Linked DNA regions of Homo sapiens: regions 2 and 3 are each linked to region 1. The links come from fine-mapping of genetic effects on gene expression. A gene starts in region 1. Each other region holds a variant in brackets. All regions are shown on one strand. Distances are between the middles of the regions. Region 1 holds the start of FAM50B (family with sequence similarity 50 member B). Region 2 has its middle 27 kb from the start of FAM50B. Region 3 has its middle 60 kb from the start of CDYL-AS1.

The links. PIP is the estimated chance that this variant, and not a neighbour inherited with it, causes the effect.
Region 2: its variant is fine-mapped to the expression of FAM50B in fibroblasts (GTEx, PIP 0.99).
Region 3: its variant is fine-mapped to the expression of FAM50B in blood mononuclear cells (TOPMed, PIP 0.91).

The regions. Positions count from the first base shown.
Region 1 is chr6:3,848,033-3,850,793 of GRCh38, forward strand. FAM50B (family with sequence similarity 50 member B) reads left to right here and starts at 1,341. Exons shown (of 2, transcript NM_012135.3): 1 at 1,341-1,454; 2 at 1,757-2,761. The coding sequence starts at 1,780. The coding sequence ends at 2,757. LOC107986557 (a long non-coding RNA gene) reads right to left here and starts at 1,334. Exons shown (of 3, transcript XR_001743931.2): 1 at 1,284-1,334; 2 at 357-617. RefSeq lists a silencer at 1,015-1,134 and an enhancer at 1,405-1,524.
Region 2 is chr6:3,874,668-3,877,428 of GRCh38, forward strand. No RefSeq gene overlaps it. Among named protein-coding and RNA genes, the nearest start is that of FAM50B, 27 kb to the left of the region's middle. The variant C/T (reference allele first, on the strand shown) is at 1,671.
Region 3 is chr6:4,714,376-4,717,136 of GRCh38, forward strand. It overlaps a transcript of CDYL not described here. Among named protein-coding and RNA genes, the nearest start is that of CDYL-AS1, 60 kb to the right of the region's middle. The variant C/T (reference allele first, on the strand shown) is at 1,699.

The DNA.
Region 1 (2,761 bases):
TAACCTCACAGAACGATGATCACAGATCACCATAGCAGATATCACAATGAAAAAGTCTGAAATATTGCAAGAATTACCAAAATGTGACACAGGAACACGAAGTGAGCACATGCTGCTGGAAAAATGGAGCCAGTAGGCGCTTGACGCTGTGTTGCCACAAATCTTCAATTTGTAAAAACAAAAACAAAACACACAGTATCCCAGAGCTCAATAAAATAAGATATTCTTGTATTCTGGTGATGGGGCAACAATGAGAAGGCTTTAGATTAAAAAAAATGCTAATTTCCTAGATTAAGGCAAGTGGTGGGGAATGGGAGAAAAAGGAAAGTGTGAAAGGCTCTTCTGTAATTGATTACCTGTGGAGGAACGTCATTCCAGGAAAAGGCCTAGGTTTCTGGCTTGGACAATTTGATGAGGGCTCACACCGTGCTGTTCTCCTCTGGATATGTGGGTGCCATATGTAATTATCATATGATTCACGCTTCTTGGTAAGGTTATGCTCACAGGCATTGTTGCTCTTAGGCGGGAGGAGGCTGAACCGCAGTATGTATTTCACAACCAGCTTTTCCAAACTAGGTCCCAGGAAGCACTGGTTTCGGCGAGTGTTACCAGATCTCCTGCAGGGGAGAAACGGTCACGAAACATGAACTGGTCTGCCCTGCTCTTGGAGAGTTACAGTGGAAACTGGCATGTTAGAGGCTCACAGTAAAGACACTGCTACACTTTAACTCAGTGTCCCATGGTTATTAGAGCTTAGAACCCGGGGGAAACTGCTGTATAGAAGAGGTCAAACAAGCTGAGTGCAGGTTTTGTCACGAAACTGGGGGGCGAGTAGGGTTCTATTATCAAAGAATGGTTGTGTTGGGGCCATAAGAAAGAATTACAGGCAGTGGTGCGCAGGTAATGTTCACGAGACGCCACAGCGGGGTAGCATCAGAGGCGGGAGGAGGAGGGTTGGAGAGCAGGGCCGTGTTGCAAGGCTCTCTGGGTGGCCACAGCAGCTTGCGCTGCGCCCACATTGCTTCTGCGTGTTTACAGTTGGGCACGAGAAGGCTCAGCACGCACGCACAGCAGGTGGGGGCCCGCCCTGCCCACAGCGTGAAAACAGGAGCCCCGGCCAGCCACGGCTGGGCAGGGCCAGAAGCGCCTCCTCCAGGATCCTCCCCGCGCTGGCCCGCCCCACAGGAGCACCGCCCCTACCAGGAGCCCGGAGCTCTTCCCAGGGCCCGCCTCCCCGCCAGGGGGCGATCCACCTCCACTTCCTGTTTCCGCAGCCGCCCTACCAGGAGCCTGGCACTCTCCTCAGGGCCCGCCTCCCCGCCAGGGGGCGCACCGCCTCCACTTCCTGTGTCCACGGCTGTCGCGAGAGCCCGGGGCGAGTGGGCCTCTGCTCGTGGGTGGTTCTCGTGGAGGTCAGCTCCCGCGTGTCTCCGCTCGACAGGGTGCTTGGGCAGGTAAGGGTCCGCTCAGTAGCCCAACCCTCTCTGTATGCAGCTCCCCAAATTCAGCGCTGCGCTCAGGCATGGCAGCCACCCGTTACGTGGGGCCGTTCGCATTTGCATTTATTGAGGTCAAATAAAATGCTGGAAATTGGTGCCTGGTGACACTGTCAGGTTGGTGGTTACCCTAGCAGGTCGGCCCAGCCCCTGAACGCTTCCATCACTGCCGAAAGCCCTGTGAGGAGGCGCAGAGCTGAGCATTCCCCGCCGTTGCGTGGGCCCCCCTCTACCTGCCGCGTTTTTCCTCTTTGCTGCAGAGCCCATCGGGTAGGCGCGGGCCATGGCGCAGTACAAGGGCACCATGCGCGAGGCAGGCCGTGCCATGCACCTCCTCAAGAAGCGCGAAAGGCAGCGGGAGCAGATGGAGGTGCTGAAGCAGCGCATCGCCGAGGAGACCATCCTCAAGTCGCAGGTGGACAAGAGGTTCTCGGCGCATTACGACGCCGTGGAGGCCGAGCTGAAGTCCAGCACGGTGGGCCTGGTGACCCTGAACGACATGAAGGCCCGGCAGGAGGCCCTGGTCAGGGAGCGCGAGCGGCAGCTGGCCAAGCGCCAGCACCTGGAGGAGCAGCGGCTGCAGCAGGAGCGGCAGCGGGAGCAGGAGCAGCGGCGCGAGCGCAAGCGTAAGATCTCCTGCCTGTCCTTTGCACTAGACGACCTCGATGACCAGGCCGACGCGGCCGAGGCCAGGCGCGCCGGAAACCTGGGCAAGAACCCCGACGTGGACACCAGCTTCCTGCCAGACCGCGACCGCGAGGAGGAGGAGAACCGGCTCCGAGAGGAGCTGCGCCAAGAGTGGGAGGCGCAGCGCGAGAAAGTGAAGGACGAGGAGATGGAGGTCACCTTCAGCTACTGGGACGGCTCGGGCCACCGGCGCACGGTGCGGGTGCGCAAGGGCAACACGGTGCAGCAGTTCCTGAAGAAGGCGCTGCAGGGGCTGCGCAAGGACTTCCTGGAGCTGCGCTCCGCCGGCGTGGAGCAGCTCATGTTCATCAAGGAGGACCTCATCCTGCCGCACTACCACACCTTCTACGACTTCATCATCGCCAGGGCGAGGGGCAAGAGCGGGCCGCTCTTCAGCTTCGATGTGCACGATGACGTGCGCCTGCTCAGCGACGCCACCATGGAGAAGGACGAGTCGCACGCGGGCAAGGTGGTGCTGCGCAGCTGGTACGAGAAGAACAAGCACATCTTCCCCGCCAGCCGCTGGGAGGCCTATGACCCCGAGAAGAAGTGGGACAAGTACACCATCCGCTAACACC
Region 2 (2,761 bases), 27 kb after region 1:
CTGAATCAAGAAATGAATTTTGCCCACTGTGTCTCTAACTACTTCATTCACTGACAGTCCACTTACAGTTCTGGGCAAATCAGACATACTTAGCTCTCTTTACAGAGTTAAAATAATATAAACAGGGAGGAAGAAAACTCCCTAGTGTTCTCAGGCAGGGTTATGACCAAATGCATTTAGTGCATAAGCAAGAAAGCTCCAGATCACCCTATGGGTCACACTTTCCTTCAGAAATTTTGCAAATTATGTTTCTGTTTGTTTGTTTGTTTGCTTAAGGATAATGTATCATCAAGATTAAATAATTTTTTTTTTTGAGATGAAGTCTCACTCTGTTGCCCAGGCTGGAGTGCAGTGGTGTGATCTTGGCTCACTGCAACCTCTGCCTCCCGGGTTCAAGCGATTCTCCTGCCCCAGCCTCCCGAGTAGCTGGGACTACAGGCGTGTGCCACCACGCCCAGCTAATTTTTTGTATTTGTAGTAGAGACAAGGTTTCACCATGTTAGCCAGGAGGGTCTCAATCTCCTGACCTTGTGATTCGCCTGCCTCGGCCTCCCAATGTGCTGGGATTACAGGTGTGAGCCATTGTGTCTGGCCAAGATTAAATAATTTTTAAAACAATACATTCCTCACCATTTTTCATATTACCTTCAACTTTTTCCAGTACTTCAATATTTAGCATAGTTATAAGCAGAGAATACCTACTTCTTATGTATTTTTTCATAAAAGTGTATAAAGTCTTGTGTTCCAAAATAGATTTCATAATTATAACTTTAATGATGGCATAATATTCCATGATCTTGATGTACCATCATTTACTAAACCATTTCCTTACTGTTGGACATCTGTTCTGTATGAATCAGGCTTTTAATAAGATATGACTTGAGAGAAGATCTAGAATATTGTCAACAGATGGCTTATGAAAGTGCCTTTGATATTATAGTACATCTATTTATGATTCTGTAGTAAATAAAATGTTAACTAGGACTGCTCCCAAATTGGGCAGTGATGTGGGTGGTGCACATACACACAGAATTTAAGGCACCTAGGGTGAGATATGAAATTCAACAGGATGAAATTCAAAATGTAAGTGAGAGAAAAAAGGCCGAATAGAGCCAGATACGCAGATAAAGATATTTTACTCAGTATCGTGTTAGAAATGCCGTGCTTCAGGAATTTAAGACTGCTGGATCCATCGTTCTATTTAGCTTTGAAATCTTGGTGTTTGAATGTGCTGTCCACATTTTATATCCTTTATACTGCTAGTCTTTCTCAGTTTCTCCCTAAGATTATTTTAAGTTCATATTCTGAAATTATAGGGATGAAAGGCAGGAAGGGAAAGTAGTGTGATAAGGGATTTTCCCCAGTTAGTTACAGAAAAAAAGAAATAGGGAATCGCAGGAGCAGATTTTGACTTATGGGATGGTGAAGGTACATGAAGCAGCTTGAAAAGGAATAGGAAAAAGGAAAGAACGATTTCTGTAGGCTGTGTTATTAGAAAGGAATAAAAGAGCTACATCTGCTACTTACACTTCATGCCAGACACATTCTCTGAGGCGTTGGGACTACATCTTGGCTCTTCAGGGCTAAAGTCTTCTTTTCCTAAGAACCAGATCTGCACCCCCGCCCACTGTTTCCAGTAAAGCAATGGGGCAAATCCCATCTCCCTGGAA[C/T]GTTCTGTTCCAGCAGCTGGAGTGACGAACTGCGGAATATCATTCACACGGAGTTGGCTCTGATAAGAACAAATGTTTCTTGGTTTATGGTCCCTCTCTTTGCTGATGATCCTGCTTGACTTTGCGTCCACTCTGAAAATTTGCCCAAGCTTTTATACGACGAGAAGGTACTATCTGCTAGAAAACATGTTTTGTAGAGCACTTTATTCTGAAACAGCCAGTGGCAGTTCATGCAACCATACAAAACCCAAGTCCCGGCTCCACGCAGGGCCATGCTGGGTCCTCATCCTAGGTCCTTTTAAATGTCTCTTGGAGAACATTTCTCTAATAGGAAATGCATACTTATTTCTCAGGGCTTTATCTGCACTGTTTAAATGACAGTTCTCTTCAACCACTACATTAAGAAAGTGATCAAATTCTATCATGCAAATGAATATACTTAATTATGTGGAAGTATATTTTAGTTACATATCAGTAATTACTCTAATAACAAATCAATAAGCTAGTAGATTTCCAAATAGGTTTTAAGATTTCTAAGGGGCAGACTGAAGGTGATTAAGTTCTCTTTACTAACATATATATACATCATGATATTATAATAGTGGTAAGTGTAAAATTGACCTAATTTCTGTGATTCATTTATTACTCAACAGATATTTGGGTATTTTTACTGAAATATATTTTGGTATTTGTTATGCCAGGCACTGTTCCAGGCAGGGAGATCTAGCAGGATGTAAAGGGCGGGGCCCTGCTCTCATGGAGCTCACGGTCTCGTGCAGGAAGATGGCTAATAAGTAAATGAGACATGATCAAGGTAATTATATATGTTTGCATTAAAACATCTTTTAATAGAGATTTAACATTATTTCATCTGGTCGTCTCAAAAACCCTGGAAGGTAGATTAAGAAGAGGTTACCAATGTATAGAAAAGTTGTAAGAACAGTACAAAAAGCTCTCTTTCCCCTTCACCTAGACTTCCCAATTGTTAATATTGTTTTCAACTGTGTAGTTAGTTGTTCATAATTGTTAATAACACTACATTGCTTCATCACCCTCTCTCTACATATACATATATATCAAATATATGTGTG
Region 3 (2,761 bases), 870 kb after region 1:
CTGCAGTGTCTCATCCAAACAAGAATGATTCTAGATGATTGCTCACAGAACTGTTGTGAAGACTAAGTCTGAGAACCCATGAACAATGCTCAGTGCAATGCCTGGTATATAATAAGCTCTCAACAGAAACACATAATCATGGTTCAGGACACCAAAGAGCACCTGGGCCCCCATCACAGCACTGCTGCTGGCCAGCCCTGGATTGAAGCACCATGCTCCCAGGCTGCCAGCTTCTGCAGATTTCAGCTACCCTGAACATTCCCTGCCTTAAAGTCAGCTTCCAGAAGAGCACATTTGATCCCAAGTTAAATTGTGAAGTAGACGACCAGCTGCCATTCATATGGAGCCCAGTGTGGATGCGTAGGTAAGTTAGAGGATGAAGCGCTGCCTTCAGGGTCACACCAACAAACTTGAGGACTGACTACTACAGAATCCGTGAGTGTTCTGGCTGGTTTAGAGGCCTCGGTTATCCCAGTTGTCTGTATTGACAAGCAGCAATCTTGATGCGCCACCTGAGTGAGGGTTCCACTCAGCTGTAAATGACATGTTATAATAGTTTTAAATTTATATGTGACTTTTTCACTTTTGTGTCTTAAAAGCCAAAGGAAATGACCTCAGTTGTTTTTTATTTTTCCAAAACAAAGTCCAAAAGGTATAGACTTTCCAGCACCATCTCCAATGGCATGTTTCCATAAACCCTCTGCATAGGCACGCCCAACCACTCGCCACTCTGAAAATGCATCGTGCTTTCTCGTGCCTCTGTGCCTTGGGCTCTCACCCTCCCTACCTGAGAATGACTCACTTCCTTGTCTCCATTAAAGCATTTGGTTACTTCTTCCTGCTTTCAGACCTTTTGTATAAGACGTCAGTTATGTCTTCCTACCAGACTGTAGACCACATGAGGACAAGACGCGCCTCCTTGTCATCTGTGTCCACCAGTCTACTAGAAAAGCTGAAAAAAGGAAAGGGGATGGTCCTTAAGCTGTAATGCAGACACATTTTCATGACTGCAAATGATAGCCTTCCAACCTCATGATAAGTATCAGGCCACTTGGCTTACTTACTCTTCCATGTATTGTAATACGTCATTATAAATTGCAGGTAACCAACATATTGACATATATTGTGGTGAAGAAGAGCAAGTTTGACTACTTTAAACATTGCTTTTTATTCCTTATCATTTTAAATGTGTTGCTACTTTTGATGCACTGCTTACTGACATTTATTGCTTCCTCTGCACAAGCACAAAATGCTGGCTCACTCTCAGATTCAATGTAGAACTGGTGAAAGTCATTAAATGCCATGAGCCTTGGGTTTTTTCCCATGTACTGTAGTAAATTCCTCTTGTTGGGATTGTAATTGCAGGTGGTCATCAGAGAACACAGAGCCCCCGGAAGAATTTTATGACATTTCAGGCAAGCCACAGGTCAGCCTGGGGAAAAAGCAGGAAGAAAAACTGGCAATACGAGGGCCCAACCCAAAAGTTATTCCTGAAGAGAAACAACGGTAAGAACTTGCAGGAATCAAATTAGTTCTGATGCAGTAGGCAGAATTCTTAGAGAGGCCCCTTTTATTTAAAAATGATTTTACTGGCCGGGCACGGTGGCTCACGCCTATAATCCCAGCACTTTGGGAGGCCGAGGCGGGCGGATCATGAGGTCAGGAGATCGAGACCATCCTGGTTAACACGGTGAAACC[C/T]CGTCTCTACTAAAAATACAAAAAAATTAGCCTGGCGTGGTGTGGGTGCCTGTAGTCCCAGCTACTCGGGAGGCTGAGGCAGGAGAATGGCGTGAACCCGGGAGGCGGAGCTTGCAGTGAGCCCGAGATCGCGCCACTGTACTCCAGCCTGGGTGACAGCAAGACTCCATCTCAAAAAAAAAAAAAAAGACTTTACCAATATGTAGTCAGAAATTGTTCAACATAAGCTTTCTGGTATTCCAGTCATAATACTCTAGCTGTTCGGACAACGCCTTCTCTCTCGCAAGCTCTCCTCTTTTTTCATTCTCTTTAAATCTCCTATCTGGCTTCCCTAAATAAATTTTTTGTAGCCAGAACTTCCATTTCATTGCAGTGGTTAGTTTTGTGTCTCCCATTGCTCTTTAGTAACTTTTAATGACCTGAGACATCGTTGGCTTCCTTTCCTTTTCCACTTCCTCCAAGTCAATTGATAGCACACCCTACACTCTGTGTTTACAAGCGTCAGAGAAGGCAGCAATAATTTTTTTTTTTTTTTTTTTTGCCTCATCTTCACTAAGGGATGCCTGAATTCTTGACAGGGCCAGATAGAATGCAAAAGTGGTTTTCTACATTGCTAAGAAATAACAGGCAAGTCTAGATACCACGAGAGCTAGCAACCTGAAGAAGTCATCTGTTCATTCTTTCATTTATTTACCGTATACGGTGTTGGGTGCACAAAAAGCATGGAGCAAGGTGCTTCAGGGTGTTTAGCAATGAGCAAGACAAAGACACTGACAAGGAGCTTTCATTCTGCAAGCCGAAAAAGACAGGAGCTCAAATTGATACCATACAAGTAGCATGAAATAGGCACCCCAGAGAGGGACACAGCTATGGAAAAATCAAATGAGGGAAAGATTACATCTCATTGGGAAAGACTTGGTGGAGGTTCAGGTCAGTTCTGGGAATGATGAGTCTGAAGTCATTGGGGCATTCAAGGGAAGCATGAGCAGGCAGTGGGAACCTGGGACCACAATCAGGAAGAAAAGGGTGGGTAGGATATAAGGGGTCCAAAGTCACTTGGAAG